Linked DNA regions of Homo sapiens: all the other regions are linked to region 2. The links come from fine-mapping of genetic effects on gene expression. A gene starts in region 2. Each other region holds a variant in brackets. All regions are shown on one strand. Distances are between the middles of the regions.

The links. PIP is the estimated chance that this variant, and not a neighbour inherited with it, causes the effect. A credible set is the group of variants that fine-mapping cannot tell apart.
Region 1: its variant is the best candidate, but not a certain one, in a credible set for the expression of SLC25A37 in fibroblasts (GTEx, PIP 0.60).
Region 3: its variant is the best candidate, but not a certain one, in a credible set for the expression of SLC25A37 in whole blood (INTERVAL, PIP 0.51).
Region 4: its variant is the best candidate, but not a certain one, in a credible set for the expression of SLC25A37 in whole blood (INTERVAL, PIP 0.88).
Region 5: its variant is the best candidate, but not a certain one, in a credible set for the expression of SLC25A37 in whole blood (INTERVAL, PIP 0.90).

What each region holds. Positions count from the first base shown.
Region 1 is chr8:23,555,816-23,559,931 of GRCh38, forward strand. The region is part of intron 1 of SLC25A37 (solute carrier family 25 member 37); the gene reads left to right. Among named protein-coding and RNA genes, the nearest start is that of SLC25A37, 29 kb to the left of the region's middle. RefSeq lists silencers at 3,161-3,250, 3,561-3,620. The variant C/T (reference allele first, on the strand shown) is at 2,327.
Region 2 is chr8:23,526,765-23,530,880 of GRCh38, forward strand. It overlaps SLC25A37 (solute carrier family 25 member 37), which reads left to right and starts at 2,192. Exons shown (of 4, transcript NM_016612.4): 1 at 2,192-2,448. The coding sequence starts at 2,239. RefSeq lists enhancers at 1,886-1,935, 3,226-3,295 and silencers at 2,066-2,425, 2,476-2,725.
Region 3 is chr8:23,576,777-23,580,892 of GRCh38, forward strand. No RefSeq gene overlaps it. Among named protein-coding and RNA genes, the nearest start is that of SLC25A37, 50 kb to the left of the region's middle. The variant G/A (reference allele first, on the strand shown) is at 2,093.
Region 4 is chr8:23,480,784-23,484,899 of GRCh38, forward strand. ENTPD4-DT (ENTPD4 divergent transcript) reads left to right here. Exons shown (of 5, transcript NR_186533.1): 3 at 1-2,457. It also overlaps the pseudogene LOC646708. Among named protein-coding and RNA genes, the nearest start is that of ENTPD4-DT, 25 kb to the left of the region's middle. RefSeq lists an enhancer at 817-1,785. The variant G/C (reference allele first, on the strand shown) is at 2,442.
Region 5 is chr8:23,561,305-23,565,420 of GRCh38, forward strand. The region is part of intron 1 of SLC25A37 (solute carrier family 25 member 37); the gene reads left to right. Among named protein-coding and RNA genes, the nearest start is that of SLC25A37, 34 kb to the left of the region's middle. The variant G/A (reference allele first, on the strand shown) is at 1,809.

The DNA of each region.
Region 1 (4,116 bases), 29 kb after region 2:
TATGAATCCACTTTCTCCCCCCTCCAACATCAGGGTGACCTGAACGCTGAAGGAAGTCTAGGCCTTCCTGTAGGTGAGGCAGGGAAAGCCACGTAGACCTGATTTAGTTGAAGTGTTTTCCACCAGGTCTCAACTCTTCATTTTGTCTTGGTATAGCTTTTCTGGCTGACTTTCTAGCAAGCTGGTTGGGCTCTTTGCTTGTTCCAAAATGGTAGTTTTCACCAGAGACTTTTCAGATGAGCAGGAAGCTTTTTTCAGAATGTATGTTCTTCTAACTCTGCTTGAGTCCCCCGCCATGTATTCTGATAGGCATTTGTTTTCCCACCCCATCCCCCACTTTTTTGAAGTGGGGGCAATGACTACTTTTAGGGGAATCATTTTTCTGTTGCTGGTTTCAAAACATTAAGAGCACCAATTTTTTTTTTTTTTTTGCAACAGAGTCTTTCTCAGGCTGAAGTGCGGTGACATGATCATAGCTCACTGCAGCCTCAGTCTCCTGGGCTCAAGTGATCCTCTCACCTTAGCCTCCCAAGTAGCTAAGACCACTGGCACCCACCATGCCTGGCTAATTTTTTTAAAAAATTACTTTCTGAAGAGATGGGGTCTTGCTATGTTGTCCAGACTGGGCTTGAATTCCTGGCAGCAAGTGATCCACCTGCCTTGGCCTTCCAAAGTGCTGGGATTACAGGTGTGAGCCACTGCACCCAGCTCAAATTTTCCTTTTCATTAAAAACATACATATATGTATATGTATGTATATACATATGTATATATGCATGTGTATATATATGTGTGTATATGTATATATGTGTGTATATATGTGTGTGTGTGTATGTATATGTATTATATGTATATTCTCTTTGTGTATTTATTTTTGCCAGTTTGGGAGATGTTAGAAAAAGACACGATTTGGAAACTTCAACTTAGGGATAAAGTTAGTTATACTCTGAGAGCTGCAGTTAAAGGATTATTTGTGCTGCTCTGCTCTTGCCTGCGACGTGTGGGAATGATGCTGAGTGATGTCCTCCTGCTTATTTTGCGTGATTTTTTTTTGAGACAGATTCTCGCTCTGTCACCCAGGCTGGAGTGCAATGGTGCGATCTTGGCTCACTGCAACCTCCACCTCCTGAGTTCGAGCGACTCTCCTGCCTCAGCCTCCTGAGTAGCTGGGATTACAGGCGTGTGCCACTACACCTGGCTAATTTTTATATTTTTAGTAGAGATGGGATTTTGCCATGTTGGCCAGGCTGGTCTCGAACCCCTGACCTCAGGTAATCTGCCCGCCTCGGCCTCCCAAAGTGCTGGGATTACAGGTGTGAGCCGCCACACTTGGCCAATTTTGCATGATTTTTACATGGCTTTTCAAAGGGCCAGGGTGGGACTATCCAAAGCCCTGTTAAGAGTCCCTCTTCTGCCAAGGAGCCTAGGAAGGGAGCAGGTTTGAGTGAGGAAGGCTGGTGGTTTTGGACGGGGAACGGGTGGTTTTGGACGGGTAGTGCCAACGGTTTTTGTGTGCGTGGTGCTCCTTGATGTGGTCTGGGTTTCTGCATTTGTAGTGTGTGCCTTCTAAGGATGCTGGAAGGTGAGACAGGGCTTTCCAAGGCCTAGATGGGGTTTGTGGCTTTACTTAGGAAGACAGTCCTTTCCATAAAGCGTGGTGCCAAATGCTTTTCCTCCTGGGCCTCCTGCTGTGATTTGTGGCGTGGAGTTTCAGTGAGGGAGGGCTCTGCAGGAACCAGCTCCTTGGTCTGATCCTTTCTGGACAATTGTGGATGGGAGTTGGCTTCTTGGTGTCTTGAGAGTGTCCTCAGCAGACCCCAGTGAAGCAGGAGCATAGAGCTCTGGATGGGCTCATGGTGGACATGGGAGAGCTGCTGGCCAGGGGGCTGCAGGGTGAGGCTTGGAAAACAGGGAGGGGGCTGGGCTTGGCCCCGCATTTTACTGTGGTTTATTTAGTGAATGTCAGTGCTAGCTGGGGACAGTTGACAGACAAGAGAAAACACTGGTTTGATTTTGAATTCTGAAGCAGACATTGGGCAGCAGAGGCTAACATTTGGCATTTATCCTAAACTTTCGAGGTGCCCGAGCCTTATTTCCTTTCTCTGGGAGAAAGTCTGGAACAGAGACGGTGCGGAGCAGCCTCTAGGGCTCAGCCCTGGGCCCCCCTGGAGTTGTGCTGCTCATGGTATCACAGTGCTTGTTTGTTTCCTGTTTGTATCCCCATTGCACCTGGCTCAAGGTAGGTGTAAGGCAAATGCTTTAGAATGAGCCAGTGAGTAGATTTCACATGATCGTCTCCTCAGTCCTAGAAATGCCACGTGAACTT[C/T]GAACATGGAAAGTTTTTTATTTTTGAGAGATTGGAGAGGTGGGAGTTACAGGCTGTCTCCAGGTCAGGCAGGGAGTCAGTGGCTGAGTTTCTGATGCTACAGATGGCTGGCTTGGGTGGCATGACCTCTGCAGGACCCCTAGAAGGGCCTGAGGCCCACTACCAGGCTCAGCTTGCCCCCTTCTCTTTTCTTTTTTGGTCCTAGGCCTGGATCAGAGGCTCCTTACCCACAGGATCTTGGACAAGTCATTTTCCTTCTTGGGCCTCAGTTTCCCATCTGAAAAGGCAGGGGCTGGGCTGGATGTGGTCTCCCTAGGGCCATTGTTGCTTCTGTTACATGATCCCGCCAGCTCACCTGGGACAGAACGTGCATTTTCCACTCTCCCTCCTCCCCGCAGTGAGAGAACGGGCCAGTGAGACAGGCCTTTCCTGTTTTGTCATCTTAGGGGAGAATTGGTGTCAGGGGCTGACCCTTCACTTTGTTCTAGCTTTGCTAGGAGTTTGTGGAGACAGTGGATGCAGATACAGACAGAGTTCATATCACTGGGAGTTTCACTGTCCTGGAGCAGATCTGGAGCTGGAGGGGACTTGCTCAGGTCACACTGGGAGTGGCAGTGTCAGGCCAGAGACCCTTGTCTCTTGATTCCCCGGGCAGGACACGTTTCTCCATCCTGCAGGCAGGTGCAGAGGAGGAATGCTTATTCATAGGCAGCACGTGAGGGCTCCTCTCAGCTGCTTATTTGGCACCCTCTTTCCCCTCCAGGGGCCAGCCACACAACCACCTGCCTCCGGCCTGCTCCCCACACAGTTGCCAGAGGGGTCTTTCTGACTCTCTCTGACACCTGGATGTTCTTGGCACTTGCTGCTTCAAGGGCATAGGTTCCCATTGGCTACGGCTGTGTTTTCACACGTGTGTTTGGTCAGGTGTCTCTGGTTATTAAATGAGACAAGGCTTGCATTGCTAAAGACAGAGGTTTAGGAAGTGCCTTGGAAAACCAAGTGAAACAGGTTTCTTTCCGGAAGGATTTCCCAGAGGCTTTAGTATGGTAATGTGCTTATGCATTTCCAAGAGGGGAGAACTAAAATGCAAACGTGGAAACTGATTTTACCGAACAGGAGGAGACTAGAAGCTAGGTCTTGGGCAGGAACTGAAACCTGGACAGGAAAAGAAATTTGTGAAATTCTCTGTCTCCGGTTGTGTGTGTGTGTGTGCGTGTGTGTGCGCGCGCGCGTGTGTGTGTTTATTTTTAATCTCTGCCCTGTCTCTGCATCCTGATTCATTCATTTCCTTTTTCCTCCTCTCCACCCTCACTTCCTTTTCTTGTATTTTTAAAAATTGTAGTAAAATATACATAACAAAATTTCTCATCTTACCCATTTTTAAGCATACAGTCCAGCGGCATTAAGTACATTCATACTATTACACAACCATCAGTGTCATGCATCCACAGAACTCTCCTCATCTTGCAAAACTCAAACTCCTGTACCCATAAAACAAGAACTCTCCGTCCTGTTCCCTCCTCACCCCAGCCCCTGGCTACCCCCATTCCACTTTTTGTCTACAAATTTGACTACTCTAGGCACCTCATATCAGTGGAATCATACAGTATTTGTCTTTTTGTGACTGGCTCCTTTCACTTAGCATGCTGTTGTCAAGAACTATCTATGTTGTAGCCTGTGTCAGAATTTTCTTTCCTTTTTTAAGGCTGAATAATATTCCACTGTATGGATATATTACATCGTGTTTATCCCTTCATCTGGTGATGGACACTTGAGTTGCTTCCACTCAC
Region 2 (4,116 bases):
TAAAAAATATATAAATATATATAAATATAAAATCTATATAAAATATATAATATAAAATTTATATAAAATATATATAACATAAAATTTATATAAAACATACATAAAATATAAAATTTATATATATAAAATGTACATATTTATACATAAAATGTATATATATTTTATATATACACATGGATATGAATGCTGAGAGGCTAAGTAAAAAAATACATTTATATATACACATATATCTATATATATTTATATACACAAATCAACATATTTTATATATGTACATATGTGTATATTCTATATCCTATCTATATATCTTATACATATGCACATATCTATATTCTATACATATATACTTCTATATATAGATGTGTGTATGTATGTGTAAATATGGTATATATTTCCTAAAAAGAATGGTTTTTTATTTTTAAATTACAGAAATAATAAAAGTATTATTTAAAGTCTGAAAAATAAAGTCAAAGCAGTTGCCTATAAGCCTCCATCACTAGCACAGTAACCATGCGATTCTTTTCCTGAGCACATTTACATCTTTGTGAATGCAATGGTTATAGAATTTCGTTTTGTTTTTTTCACCTAACATTACATTATAATCATCGTCCATGTCGTGTAATGTAAATTCCACTTGTAAAGGCTGCATAATATTTCACTAATATTATGCACACATCATAATTTCCTTAGCCATTCCCTTCTGGTTGACCATTTAGGTTGTTTCCAATGATTTACTGCTCTAAGGAATGCTTTGAAGAAGAGCTTCCTGTGTATTTGGGTTTTTGTTACATTCCCAGAAGTGGGGCAGTGGGTTCTTACAGACTTAATGCTTAAAGGGCATCCACTTAAAAATAAGGATCAACAGCTTCTGATCAGTATTTCTTAAAAACGACCTTTGACAAAAGTAGAGTTTTCTCTAGCCATTACAGAGATGGCTAAGTAAAAACACAGAGCCTGTTTTTACTTATCACATCCTTAGCACTCAGCTTGCCAGCTACTATCTGCAGCTACCAAAACTAGGCAAACAGTGCTCTTGGTCCTGACGCCTCTATTGACCTCTACCCATGCTCACATTACTGTATCTCAAATCCCTAAGAGCTGCTTGGGATGCTGATCACGGTGAGGGCAGAGAGTAGGCTCAGCCTCTTCAGGGTCTTCCCCACCCTTTCATATCTCAGGATCCAGCTTTCCTGACGAGAAGCCTTGTCTAGATAAGGCAGGGAGGCCCTGGTGCCTACAAGTTGATCAGCCCAAGTCATCTTAAGCCCTGGAACACGCAATTTAGACGGACACTTCCAGAGGCAGACAGGTCCCTCCCCTACTTTCTGATTTCTCCCTTTTTCCCCAGACTGGAGCAAAACAATATTAAAACAGCCTGGGTTACACTTTATTGAAGAGGCCAGCTTAGGACGACTTTAAGAACTAGGTGACCACAGTCTTAAGACAGGCAGGGGCAAGGCTGTAAGATTTTACTCTCAGCCAGTTCACACTCCTAACTGTGAGATCAGGCCTCTACAGACCTTATGGGCCTATCAAACCCAAAGAAAATTTCCTGGAGGTGCCTACTCAGAGGGGCTCCCTCCTGGTCACTCCTTATAGCCTTGCTCGGTCCAGGGCAGGGTGGGTTCGGTCTCTCGGTGAGAACAAGAGGAACACATTTAGCTCTGCATTATGTATTTAGGTTGAGAGAAACAATTTCGAATGAATGGGGGTCTCTCCAACAAAGCAGTCTAGAACGGGCCCCTGAGGTTTGAATTCAGGCCTTAGGAATGCCAAAGCTCACTGAGCGATTCTGTTTGCAAACCCACCCGCCACGGGGACGGATTTTCCCCGAGACACTGTCACCCATGCCTCCAGCTCTGGGCATACCCCACTGCGGCCCCTCCCCAATGACCTCCCCTGCCCCTCGCGGACCAGCCCATCCTCAAGATAGTACAACTTTCCGGGCCACCCCACGTCTCCTCTCGCCCCCGTCCGGTTGCTTGGAAATGTGCACGGGACGGTGACGTCACACAGGGAGGCGGGTCCCCACTGTCCCGCACACCAATGGCGCGGCGGCCGCCGGCCTCTTGGTTCCCGGCGATTGGTGTCTCTGGCCGCTGCGCTCCACCCCAGCCCGCCATGGCGTCAGGCGCCGCGGCCCCGGGGAGGTGGCTCCCACTTTAAGAAGTGAAGTTTTGCGCCCCTCCCCCTCCCTGCCCACCTCCTGCAGCCTCCTGCGCCCCGCCGAGCTGGCGGATGGAGCTGCGCAGCGGGAGCGTGGGCAGCCAGGCGGTGGCGCGGAGGATGGATGGGGACAGCCGAGATGGCGGCGGCGGCAAGGACGCCACCGGGTCGGAGGACTACGAGAACCTGCCGACTAGCGCCTCCGTGTCCACCCACATGACAGCAGGAGCGATGGCCGGGATCCTGGAGCACTCGGTCATGTACCCGGTGGACTCGGTGAAGGTGAGGCGCGGGGAGACTTCGGGGACGCAACGAGCGGAGAAGGAGCGCGCGCGCGCATTTGCATCCCGCGCGCCGGCAGCCTCGGGGCAGCGTCCCGAAACCGAGCTCTCCCCAGGACCGCGGCTGGCCGGGGTCGCCCCAGGAGCAGCTGCGCGCAGCCTGGGCGCCGCGCCTTCCGCCGACCCCGCGAGGGTGCCCGGTCCTCGCCCCGCACCGCCCGCTGCTCCAGCCGCGTGCCCGGCCCCGGCTGCTGGCGGCGCTGAGGCGGGGGAGGCGGAGTGGCGAGCACCGCTGGCTTCGGCGGCGACTGGGCTCCCGGGGGACGCGATCGCTGAAGCTCTGCACAGTCTTACCACGCTGGCCGTTCGGGCTGGCTGGGGCCGCCCACACGTGCGCGGTTTCCGAGGGAGCTCCCCGCAGGGGAAGCCCTCACCACGCTGGAGCTGAGAAACGTGTGGCCCTGGCCCGGCCGCGCGCCCTCGGGACTTGGTGTGTGGCTGCTGCTCCCCGGGTTATTTCGGGAACTTGGGGCCGGCAAGTCTTCTCTCGACTAGTGGCAGCTCTTTACCGGTTCGACAGCGGCCCGTGGGATCCCCTTTCTGAGGGTTCCTGCACTTCTTCCCCCGACTTTGGGTCGCCGAGCCGCCGGGAGGCAATGACGTTTGCCTTCTCCTTTTGCTTGCGGGGAGGTGGGTGGGCTTGTGCCTTACAGCCCTTGCTGTGGATTGTGTGAGAGGCACTCAGTTTCCTTTAAACCCTGTCTGTCACTTGCCCCGGTAGTTTTAACTGCATTTCTGTAAAGAGGCAGCGTTACTAGGTGCGTTTTGCCTGGTAGACTGAGACCTGCCCTCTGTCAGCCTGCCCAGAACACCCCAGGGCCAGGATAGAGTAGTGCAGGAAGTAATGCCAGTATTGACTGTTACACGTTGCACTTTTATAGGCATAACTCGCCTAATTCATGCAACAGCCCTGGGGGTTAACAGATGAAGAAACTGAGGCGCAGAGAGGCGAACCGATTACCTTGCCCAGGCTCCTACACCACCTCCTATCCTCTGGCTGCAGCTGCAGTGTGCTTTGGAGGATTCGGAGGCCTCTCTAGGTGGCAATTATTTTGCAAGGCAGGTCCCACAGAGGCACCCCCAGCAGCTTTATCTTGTTGCTGATGCTGGTCCTGCATGAGCAGGTATGAAGGCCAGAAAGTATAACTCAGAGGGTTTTCCCGGCTCCGGGGAGCTCGCTTGGAGCCAGCAGTCAGTGTCTGGACAGGCAGAAGTCCAGTGAGGAAAGACATGGGCTTCCAAGGTGCTGCTGGACCTAAGCCTGAGCCATCACCCATATGTCCCTCCAGTGTCCCAGTGGGGAGTTAGAGGAATGGTTCTCATCTCCAGGAAAGACACTGGACTGATACCAGGTGGCATTTGTATGGGAAAGAATCCCTCAAATGTAATAAAATTCTCCATGATTGAAGCTGTTGTCTCAACTGCCCTGGGCAGAGTCTGGGGAAAGTTAGGAGCAGGGAGGTGTTATCTGAGCAGGCCCTAGTCCTACTGGTGTCTTGAGATGAATGTTCTATTCGGGAACCCCACAGTGAGTTCACTTTAGAGCATCATTTTAGCTTATTTTTAGGATTAGAAATAATTAGTTGTGCCTTCTGAGCACCCTTTGACA
Region 3 (4,116 bases), 50 kb after region 2:
TCAACCTAGGGGGCCCTTCTGTGGTGCCCCTCTTAGTTTGCCACCTGCCTCCTCATGGAGGCATCTTTCTATCACTCAAGAGCCCTCTCCAGCACGACCACATTCAAATTCCAGCCCTAAAAAGGCCATGAAAGGAAGGTATACCTTTCCTCTAGGGGCAAGGTCTCCTTACTGAGTTGCATGTTTTCTAGTTATCAGCTACCTCTTCCAGGAGAGACCTCTGCTCCTACCCAAGGAGGGGACTTAATGTGACAAACATTTCAGAGAAGAAGTAATGAGCCTAGTCTTGTACAAGAGAAAGACACAGCCAACTGGGCAGATGTGGAGGTGGGTTATGATTGCTTGCAAGGGAACAAAGCATTGCCTCTGGTCTAAGTCTGAATGCAGTGAGTAGCCTAAGAGAAATAAGAGCAATTTGGGAGAAAAGAGCTTGGTTTGCATCCATAAGGGCTTTGTAGGAGACACCCTCATGGTAAGTAAGCTGCACATAAGAGCTTTGACTGCCATTGTAAGAAGTTTGACCTTTAAGCAGTAGGTAATGGGGAGTCTTATGAAGAGTATTTGAGCAGGGGACACCATGATTGGAGCTTGGTTCTAGGGAAACTCATCTGGCTAAAGTGTACAGGACCAAGTGAAGAAGAAATACGGAGGAGGCCAGGAGATGGTCAGTTCCATGTCACAGTGAAATTGTCCAGAAGAGGGATGACTAAGAGAAAGGTGAAGGAGACTGAAACAGAATGAGTGGGACTGGATCGATGAGAGTGTAGAGGTGAAGTCAACAGAGGCCTGGGGGCGCAGGACTCTAGGGCATGCTGAGAACAGGCTGGGCTGTCTGAGAGGAGTAGGAAGACCTGGCGGTGAGGACTAATACATGGCGGCAGAGAAGATCCCTCATCTCTAAGTCCATGGGTCTCTCCTTAGTCCTCCTCTTCTTTGGGCATGGAAAACTCATCTCAAGTCCATGGGTCTCTCCTTAGTCCTCCTCTTCTTTGGGCATGGAAAACTCATCTCAAGTCCATGGGTTTCTCCTTAGTCCTGCTCCTTCTTGGCATAGATGCCTGATCTCCAAGTCCATGAGTCTGTCTTTAGTCCTCCTCCTCCCTGGGCATAGACTCCACATCTCTAAGTCCATGGGTCCCTCCCTAGTCTTTCTCCTTGAACATGCACAACACTTGAGGGCTCTCTCTTTAGCTCCCCTACTTGACTTCCATTTCCCTGCTTTCTGCTGGCCTCCCACCTCTATGACTACCTTCTCTGGCCCTTCACCAGCTTCAGCTCCTTTCCGGGCCACCTAAGTATGGCTGCTTGGAAAGGTTCTGCCGCTGGGGATCCTGTCTCTCCACACCCCCTTGGTGCTGATCTGCCCTCCTCTGGAAGATGATTCTTAGATATGGGGCTGTAGCACCCCGATTCTTCTCCTGAACTCCAGATTTCAATGTCCAGTGGCCTGCTGGAGATCTCTTGGATCTCAACTTGTCCTCCATTCTTAAGAGACTATCCCCCCTTGCTGCCAGAGGCTTACCGTGTTACTCAGTTGCTTAAGACCTTCAAGGGCTCTTCATTGTTGATTGAATTTAATAGGCTTTCCTGCATATGGCAGTTCCCAGTTTAGCTTCGTGTGTAAGGAAATGACTAGAGAGAAACAGAATAGGTCAGCAGGATGGTTGTGTAAGACCCTGAGGTCTTAATCTTCTTAACAGGGTGGTGCTGTGCTCTTTGCAGAACTTTGTTCCCATTGGAATGTCTTCCTTTCCTGCCACCTCCTCTCTGCTCATTCAAGTCCCCTTTTCAGGCTGCCTTGAAGATAGCATTTACTACCACATTGTGGAGCTCCTCCTAATTTGCCTGTCTATGTGATCTTTCTTTCCTCTTTGTCAGTATCTACAGCCTCTTTGACAGGCCTCCAACCTGCCATGGCTGACCTCACTTTGCATTTTTGCTGCCTTCTGCCCAGAATTATGTGCCCAGTGAGGGCAGAGACTGTGGTTTATTCACTCCTGTTTTCTCCATAGCCCTCCAGCCTACTGTTTCCCGCATTCTGCATAAGAGTGACAGTTATTGTTCGTTGTATGTAACAAACTTCTGATGTCCT[G/A]TTAAGCTTGAAACTCCTGTGGGACATCCAGGTGGAGACCCCCAGAAGGAAATGCAATATTGGTGGTCAGGAGAAAGGCTGGAACTGGAACAAAGGACCTGGCATATAGGCCAAGGGATGTGGTGGCCAAAGCCATGGGCAGAGGAGAGTCCCTAGGGAGAAAAACAATCTCGTGGAAGGCTTACATTTAATAGTGAAGAGAGAAATGGGAACCAGGAGAGGCTGGAGTGGTCAGAGAGTTATGAAGTAACCAAGAGGTGAGGCTTTTACAGAGGAGGGGTAGTAATCAGTTCTACAAGCTTAGGAGTGAAATATAAGCAACCAAAGCTATTAAAAAAAAAAAAACAAAAACCTACATTGTCTCTCCCTGCTCTTGTCTTCTTTGTTCCCGGTTTGTTTTTCCCTGCACTTACTCTCTTGCCTTTTTGGATTCCCTTTTAAATGTCACCTTCACCAAGTTCAGCTGCTTCCACACCTCCCCCTCCCCTGACCCCCTGCACCCAGCACCATTCCTACTGTATCTAGCATAATATTTCAGAGGCTACCTAAAGGCAATAATTAGACAAACACTCAAAACTGCACATCCCAGGCTTGTTCATGAAAGTGAAAAGCTGGAAAACAAACGATATCTATCAAGAAATTAAATGGTTTATAGACAATCCTGGCTGTCCTGGTATTTTTGTAGGAAAGAAATTTCTTTAACGGTCCCCAGCAACATACCATAAGATCTTTATTCCCAATACATTTATCAAATTTAGGATACTTCTGAGCTTCCCCATTTCTCTGGCCTTGCCTCCTAAAGGTAATGTTATTTTGGTAAACATGTGACCTCTCTTTTATGAAGCCATGGATATTACACAATTCCAGACTTCCAGGTTCCTGTTGCCATAGCTTCTTTAAGAAGCTCTTCTTTCCTTATGCTCATACTTACCTATGGTAGCTTTGATGTTTCATTTTCCATAGTAAGTGAGACTCTGGGCAGAGCACCCAGCACTACTGCTAAGAGGACACAAGGGCCACTTTAGCAGAGACAGACAGCCCAACCCCTGTCCACTGTCAGCAGAAACTCGTCTGTGACAAAAAGTATAAATCAAAATCATACCAGTGATGTTTTAGTCTTCAACCTGAAGCAGTTGAAGCTTGGGTGTCGCCTTGGAGTCCTGGTGTATTTCTATTGTTGTGAAGTGCTCTCAGTGTTGAATGGGCACCCGACTGCAACCTCATGAAGCCCAGAGCTGCAGAAAGAGGGACTGTGGACATCTGGCTTCTTCATTATTGTCATGCTGCCCCTTGGGGTGGCTGCCTTTAAGGGAAGAGGGAGTTTAAAAAGAACAAAGGGAGATATGTACCAAGGGTGTTTGTCCTCATCAGTATGTGAGTTCGTGGAAGGAGTTCTTGCTGCCTGCTGAACAGTGAAAATATTCTCTTGATGGACACCTTTAGCTTGGATTGACAGGTGATAAATATATATCCCAAGATTTCTACGTTGAGCCTAATGCAAGCAGCTGGTGAAATATACCAGCACATCCTCAATCTTTCCCTGATTGTGTCTGCATAAAGTTTAGAAATAAATAATGTGTGTATTAGTTCATTCTTGCACTGATGCTATAAAGAAATACCTGAGACTGGTAACTTATAAAGAAAGGAGGTTTAATTGGCTCACGGTTCCACAGGCTGTACAGGGAGCATAGCCAGGGAGGCCTCAGGAAAGCTACAATCGTGGCGAAAGGTAAAGGGGAAGCAGGCTTGTCTTACATGGCCAGAGCAGGTGGAAGAAAGAACGAGGTGGGAGGCACTACACACTTTTAATCAACCAGATCTTGTGATAGCTCACTATCATGAGAACAACACCAAAGGGGAAATCTGCCCCTATGATCCAGTCACCTACCACCAGGCCCCACTTCCAACATTGAGGATTACAATTTAACATGATATTTGGGTGGGAACACAAATCCAAACCATATATATATATATATATATATATTTTTTTTTTTTTTTTTTTGAGATGGAGTCTAACTCTGTTG
Region 4 (4,116 bases), 46 kb before region 2:
CCAGCAGCAGCGTCCAATGGGACGTTCTGTGCCCATGGCCACAGTGGCTCACAAGCATCATCCGCAGCCCAAGAGTGAGGAGTCAGGGTCCTGTCACTGCCACCAGCAGGCAGGGGTGCTGGGGGCATTCTGATCTGTTAGCATGTGGACAAGGAGGCGCGTAAGCTGCCCCCGGGGACTCACCACCTCTTTTAATTAATAGGGAAACAGTCCACTCAAGAAAAAGAGAAAACCTGGGAAGTTCTTTTTCCTGAATTAAGACAAGGCCTTAAAACCTAAAGGGCAGAACACCGGAAACAGTTTTGCTTCCAGGTCAGGCAGTGGGAGGAACTCCAGGCCCCGAGTGTCTGGGCTTCCTAGGTGTCTTATAATCACAATCACCACTGTGAGAATTTTCATGGCCATGATTTATTTAGGTTTTACAAATTCTGTAGGAACTGGGTTCCACAAACCTCCAGACCTGCTCCTCTTTCCCACCCTACCCCACCCTTTGCGGGGAGCTGCATGGTTCTAAAAAATGGTCCATTGGACTCTGTAACTGAAAAGCCACCTGGCAAGGGGCCCACTTTGATGGGTACCAAAGGGCCTTGGAGTGTTCTAGCCACAGAGCTGTGTGCAGGCACAACAGAGGGCCTGGTGGGGCTGAGCCAGGCCCCCTGACAGGTGGCTTTCTACTTTAGGTCCAAGCTTAGAACCTGGCTCTTGGCCAGTCTGGGGAAAAATAACTCACTTCCTAAGCTACATCTGCAAAAATTGCAAAGGCTGAGTACAGCCAGCATTTGAGGCTGAACTTGCTGCTGTGTTGAACGGCACGGAGGCACCCCAACGTCTCGCTGCCTCGCATTTCAGGATGGGCCAAACAATGAATTTCTTATTCTTTTAGGAGAGGTCTGATTTTGACAAATTATTTCTAATTTAATATCACAGTGCATAGCTCTCCTCTCATCAAAGGTCTTCATGATCATTTTAGGGAGAAAAACCAAAGAAAAGTGAGACAAACAAAACTGCCCCAGGACTTGGTGCTGGCAGCCAGCTCATCACCCACATGGGGATCCGCAATAGGGGTCAGCTGGGGGCCCTCAACCAGCACCCCGCTCCTAAGCACGTCCAGATTTGTCCTCACCCATGTCCCTTCTGGCAACTTCCTGGTCAACCTCAACCCACCCCTCTGCACAGCCTTGGGTGGGCCGCTGAGGGCCATGAGTGAGCTGGGGCCATGAGTCAGCAGGCAGGCCGGGAAAAAGGGCCTCAGGAGACTCATCTGGTTGGTCCCAGCCAGAGCCACCACACACAGCCTCTTCCTCAGCTTCATCTCTGCTGAGAACTCTGCAGCGGCCACCATGGATGTTCTGCAGAAGCCAGGCCCACTGAGTCTGCAGCATGGGGCCAAAGGCAGGCCCAGCATATCCCGTGAGCCACAGAGTGGGGGCAGCTCTGAGCCCTCGGCCAGCACAGGGACATCAGACCCGTTTCCCCCACTCCTCTACCCAGGGCGCCACCAACAAGGTCTAGGACAGACAAAAGACTGACTTCCAATGGTCCACACGTGGATTCCGTGGTCTGGCTGCTGGCCTCCCAGGGACCCAACCCTTCTGAGCCAGAGGGGTCACTCTGGTCCAGTCAGTCCTTCCTCCAGGGACATAACGAATCTGGCTCTGCCTGAATCATCGATGACAGGGCAAAGGCAACTGGAGCAGATGGGAGCTCTGGCAAACACGGGAGGAGGGTCTTGGAAGAGCCCCCGTCCCCAGCGGCTAGATGCTTACACATGGACGATCTACTCTCCTGACTGTGGCTCATCAGGCTGGTGCTACCATCTGTGGTTGTAAAGGTCCAAAGAGGGCTACGGAAAGGACAGGTGGGCTGGAAGGAATGTGGAGAATGACCCCAGGACAGGGGAGGAGGAGACTGGCCCCATCAATCCAGTTCACAGCCGGGAAAAGTGCAGGAAGACAGACAAACGACCCCAATGTGGGCGAAGGACACACCTCCAAGGACTGGAGCCGCAGAGTCCACGTGACAAGGAGACCCAGGATAGAAACACTGTGCGGAGGACACGGTGTCAACCTCGGAAGGGGCCTCCTATGCTTTCCACACCAAATTCCCCCACGGGAGAAACCCTGCCACAAGGCCCAGGAAACCACAGACCCCAAGCCAACTGTGCCTAGCACAGACACCAAGGAATGACAGCGATGCCAGTGACGCCAGGAGGACTTGGCCCCTAGCCCCATCATCGGCTGTATGATGATCGGTGTGTCTGCGGCCTCCCTCTCGTCAGACTGCAGCCTTGGGGGACACGTAGAACTCTGTCTCCTCGCCCTCAGGGGCCTTGAGCTTACACTTCCCGCAGCACAGCAGCGGTTGAAGCAGCACCACAGACAGCAGCAGCAGTAGCAGCAGGTGAGGAGGCTGCAGAAGACAAACAGGGCCTTGGCCCCCCC[G/C]GCTGGACAGCACGAGGTAGGTGTTCACGTTCTCTTCCCCAAACTGTTCGGCCAGGTAGAGCCCCAGCGAGCCGTAGTTGTCATAGATGTTCCTTTATGTGGTGTCCGTCAGGATGGCTTGGGCCTTGTTGATCTCCTTAAACTTGTCTGCGGCCTCCAGGTTGTCAGGGTTCTTGTCGAAGTGATATTTCAACGCAAGTTTCCGATAGGACTTTTTAATGTCATCTGAGGTTGCGTTCTTGTCCAGCCCAAGACTGTGGCACAATGATTCCCCAGAGGTAGACAGTGAACGCTGTCTCTGGTCTGCCCTGTTAGGCTAATCTGCCCATCCGCCCGCCCTCCCGCCGGCTCCATGGCTCCTGCTCCCCGCTCTGCGACGCTGCTGGGCAGTGGCCAACGCAGTCCTCAGCCTGGAGACCCTGGGTGGCGGCCGCAGCGGCAATGGCAGAGGGCGCCGGTGCAGCGCTCACAGCGGCAGCGGCAGCGGAGACGCCGCAATTATTTTAAAATAAAAAAATACCTACTCTATGGAAGGGAGATTGATGAGTTGAGTTTCTCTCTTCCTGGGGTTGGGTGGAGACAGGACTGATAAACTGCTGTCCTTATTCAAGGGCCTCAAGGCCCTACCCCCAGAGTAGAGGCTCCCTCGTTCCGAGTTGTCACATAAAACAAACTCCCTCCAGCCAGATGCAGCCTGGGCCCTTGAAAGCTCAGCTCAGGATGTGGGTCTCTCCTAGGGTTGCTGGAGATCTTCAGGAAGATAGGGAGTGGCCTTCTCTCAGCACTTTCTTCCCCAGCCTGCTCCAGCCACAAAAGTCCCCTGTCAGGTTCATTACCACCTTCTCCTATTCCCTTCCTGTGAATGCTTCTGTCAGCAGTTTTTTTGGTAATGATGATGGTGATGGGTGATAATAGCTTCCTGAGTTCTTATGACAGGCCAATCATGTTACACAGAGCATTTCTGAGAATCTTCACAACGTTCAGTATGTACACACCTTATGAGACATGCACAGTTCTCCTCATTTTACGGAGGAGAAAGCTGAGATTTAGAGATAAATTGATTTCCTCCAGATCACATTGACAGTTACTGGCAGATCTAACTGACTAGCTCCAAGTCCTTGCTCTTAACCCTGTCTTGATGTCTTAACCCTCCACTTGAACTCTAGCCTGTAATGCTGTCTTCTCCTCCTGCAGGAACCAGCCCATTATTTAAGGTGGACATGACTTTTTTTTTTTTTTCCCCAGGCTGGAATGCAGTGGTGCGATCGCGATCTCGGCTTATTGCAACTTCTGCCTCCTGGGTTCAAGCAATTCTCCTGCCTCAGCCTCCTGAGTAGCTGGGATTACTGGCATGCGCCACCATGCCTGGCTAATTTTTGTTTGCTTGTTTTTGTTTTTTGTTTTTTGTTTTTTTGAGACTGAGATTTGCTCTTGTTGCCCAGGCTAGATTACAGTGGTGCGATCTTGGCTCACCACAACCTCCACCTCCCGGGTTCAAGCAATTCTCCTGCCTCAGCCTTCCTGAGTAGCTGGAATTACAGGCATGCGCCACCATGCCCAGCTAATTTTGTATTTTTAGTAGAGATGGGGTTTCTCCATGTTGGTCAGGCTGGTCTCGAACTCCTGACCTCAGATGATCCCCCAGCCTCGGCCTTCCAAAGTGTTGGGATTATAG
Region 5 (4,116 bases), 35 kb after region 2:
AATTTAAAAAGGGGAGGGGGTGAGAAATCAGTCCCAAATGTCCCTGTAAGTTTTGGTGTGATGCCAGCCTCCAACTGGCTGACATGAGCAGTTTTGTAAAGGAGAGACCCTCTTGATGGCTTCACGTATATCATGGGGTGGGATGGGGACAGTCATTATTGACAGCCAGCCTGTGCCAAGTGTTTCCCAGCAGCTCTCTGGGCGATTATTCCAGCCAAGGATGGCCATGCCCTAAGGTTAAGGAACCTGCTTGAGGTCCCAGAGCTGGAATTGAGATTGACAACCTCAGGCTGGGTGGCTGTACAGCCTGGGCACTCTCTGTGCCCCCTGCCCTCACTCAGCCACTCCCTCCATAGGTCACCAGGGGTAATTCCCTACTGCCCAGGCAGAGGGCTGGGGCTGGAAGGGGTCTAGATGGTCACTTAGTGGTTCCCCAAGCTGAGTCCTGATCAAAATCATCTGGGGAATTTTAAAAAGAAAAAGAAGACTTGAATCAGTGTGTGCTAGGGTGGTGTCTATGGATGGGTATTTTCAAACATTTCCCGGGTAACTCTGATCTTCAGCCCCTGCTCTGATCCTCCCTTTCATTTTCCAGTCCAGGACACTGGGGACCGGAGAGATGAGATGCCGTGACCAAGGTCACTGGGTTGTAGCCAGAGCCAGCATCAGGTCCAAAGTGCGATCTCAGTAGCCAGTTCTCCATGCTCTGTGTTTGTTCAGACTGCCAGCCCTGCTCAATGGGGCTCTGGAACTTAAGGAAGGCCTTTGACCATAGGCTGGGCTTGCAAAACCTTGGTAGGACCCTGCCCTTGGCTGGAAACCTCAGGGCTCCAGCCAGGGCTCATCCCCAAGAAGATACACTGCCATTCTCCAAAGTGTGGGGGCCTCTCCCCTGAAGGGCGCTGCCTGGAGCCACCTCTTGTTCACAGGCCCATGTTAGGCCCCCTGGGACAGGTTGCCTTGGCTCCATATGTGGTTCTGCAGATCACACCCAGGCTTGAGAAATGCGGTGACACGTGAACTTTGCATTGATGTGAAAAGGTCCAAATTAAAGGTGATGGCAAGCACAGCTAAGTCCAAGAAAGTGTGGCTCCTATTTAGGGGTGGTGGGCTAAGAGACAAGACACAGTACCCTTTCACCCCGGTGGGTATTCTAAGTTGGGTTAGTTTGTTCATCAATTCATTCATTCAACAAATATTTATTGGGTTCCCAATAAATCATCTTACTGGTCCTTGGAGATCTGCTGTGAACAAGACAAACACAACCCCACCTCTGTGGCCTGCACAACCCTGGAAGGTCACACACTAGAACCCTATCACTTGGCCTCTCCATGAATCACCGTCATGTAGCCCCTCGACAGGGGACTCTTGTGTTATTACTGACAATATTGATGGTTTTAGACACATATTATCCCATTTAATTTTCCCAACCATTCTCTCAAGTGGGGAAACTCAAACTTAGAAAGTTTAATGACCTTGCCCAGGGTCACACCATGAGTGATGGCATCTGAATTCAGCCCCAGTTCTCTCTGATTCCAAAGCTGGGGTTCTTGACAGCCACATTGTACCACCTGGTACCCTTGCTTTTTGTCAGGGGCAAGTATAAGAAGAAGGCAGGTGACACGTGAAGCTTTATTTGCTCTAAAACTTGAGCGATTTCATATGTCCTAAAGGAGGAGTTTTGCCTCTTCCTTCCCAGCATGAACACTTGGCATGGTGTGTACATCTTCATTCGTTTGGTCTGGCCAACAGCCACTCGGGAGCTGAATGAGGTGTTGTGACCATGACCTGGGTATTCTCTTGGTTCA[G/A]ATACCTTCTTGGTTGGCACATTCACTTTCTCGTCCTTCCCTTGGTCTTTCTTGCTTATAATATATCCCTTTTTTAATTTTTAATTTTTTTTAAGACAGGGTTTTGTTCTGTCACCCAGGCTGGAGTGCAGTGGCACAAACATAGCTCACTGCAGCCTCAAACTCCTGGGCTCAAGGGATTCTCCCACCTCAGCCTCCCAAATAGCCAAGGCTACAGAGGTGTGCCGCCATGCCTGGCTAATTTCTTATTTTTTTGTTGAAATGAGGTCTCAGTATATTGCCCAGGTTGGTCTCAAACTCCTGGCCTCAAGCAATCCTCCTGTCTTGGCCTCCCAAAGCGCCAGGATTACAGGTGTGAGCCATCACACCTAGCCTAATGTATCATCTTATTAAATCAGATCAAATCCTTTTTGAAAAGACTTAAAATTGAAATCACTTTAAAAAACGAAAGGATGCAGGGCTACCCTCCCTGGGACCCTGGGGCCCAGGTGTCTTGGCAGCTGCCTTGGGCTGGGCCAGAAGATGTTTTTGCCAGTCTGTGGTAGGAAAAAGGGTGCAGAGTAGCGAGTTTTTAATAAAGCTAAACTGGCCGGGTGCAGTGGCTCACGCCTGTAATCCCAGCACTTTGGGAAGCCGAAGCAAGTGGATCTCGAGGTCACGAGTTTGAGACCAGCCTGGCCAACATAGTGAAACCCAATCTCTACTAAAAATATAAAAAATTAGCTGGGCGTGGTGGAGGGCGCCTGTAATCCCAGCTACTCAGGAGGCTGAGGCAGGAGAATCGCTTGAACGTGGCAGGCGGAGGTTGCAGCGAGCCGAGATTGTGCCACTGCACTCCAGCCTGGGCAACAGTGTGAGACTCCGTGTCAAAGAAAAAAATAAAAATAAAGCTAAATCTAATTTAAAGTACCATTTTATAATCAGAGGTAGTCTTCCTTACTTTTTTTTAAGCATTAAAAATGCCCTTTCTTTTACAAAATCATGTTTGTGGTGGAGGGCAGTGGTGATTGTTGCTTATATTGTTATTGTTTTTGCGTCCTTTCTGGGCAAAATAAAAAGTTTGCCTTGGTGTGTCCATTTCCTTTGTGGTTTTAATAGCTGGTGAAATCTGAACTATGAAAATGACCACTAATTCAGGTGATTGGTTTTCACCGTTCCTCCAAGCCCTGGGGTACCTGGGGCTCTCTGTCCCGGTGAGTGAGAGGGAGCCCCAGAGAGTCCTTTGCCCATCTTCAATCAGAGAAGCCCTCCTTTTTTATATGTAGGATTAGATTTTTTTTATGATTTTGTTTGGAGATAAAAGGATACCCCTGCCAAAAGTTGAAAAGCTTCTCCTCTAGGATGTGTGTTGGGGGGGAGTGGGGGAGGGAGGGAGTCGGGGAGGGAGGAAGGGAAGGGTGGGAGGAAGGAAAGGAGGGAGGCAGGAAAGAAGGAAGGGAGGAAGAAGGAAGGAGGGAATGTAGTGACTTTGGTGGGACTGAGCCATGGTGGATCTTCTACTTGGCGAGTATTTCTTGCCTATATACTAGTCAGAGTTCTCCAGAGAAACAGGTAATAGGATGTGTAAAGTCTACTTGGGTTTGTAAGACCAGCCTTTGGTTGAAGACCTTCCTTGGGTCCTAGCAGACAGAAACCAGGAGAGACAGAGACATCTATATCCGGCTACATAGAGAGGTTATCTGTCTAACTCTCTGCCTGTTCTCTATCTATATCTGTCTGTCTGTCTGTCTGTCTACCTACCTACCTGTCTCTGTCTGTCTGTCTGTCTACCTACCTACCTATCTAATCTACCTACCTACCTACCTATCTGTCTGATCTACCTACCTACGTACCTACCTACTTAGAAATTGAGAGATTTACTTTGAGGATTGACCCACATGATTGTGGGGACTAGCCAAGTCCAAAATCTGCAGGCTGGAGATTTAGGGAGAGCTGATGTTACAGTTTGAGTCTGAAGGCAGTCTGGAGGCAGAATTTCTTCCTTGAGAGAGACCCAGTTTTTTTCTCACGAGGCCTTCAGCTGATTAAATGAGGTGTATGTACCCACAGTATACAGGTTAATCTACTTTATTCAGAGTCTACTGATTTAAATGTTAAACTCATTTAGAAAATCCCTTCATACATACATCTAAACTAGTGTTAGATCAAATATCTGGGTACTGTGGCTCATCCAGGCTGACCCATAAAATTAACCATCACACCTGTGCAAGCGCTTTTCCCTCCTGGATGGTGTCCTAGGGATGACAGAGGAGGGGAAAGCCAGGTCTCTGCTTCAAGGAGACAAAATTATGCATACGAAGAAATTAAG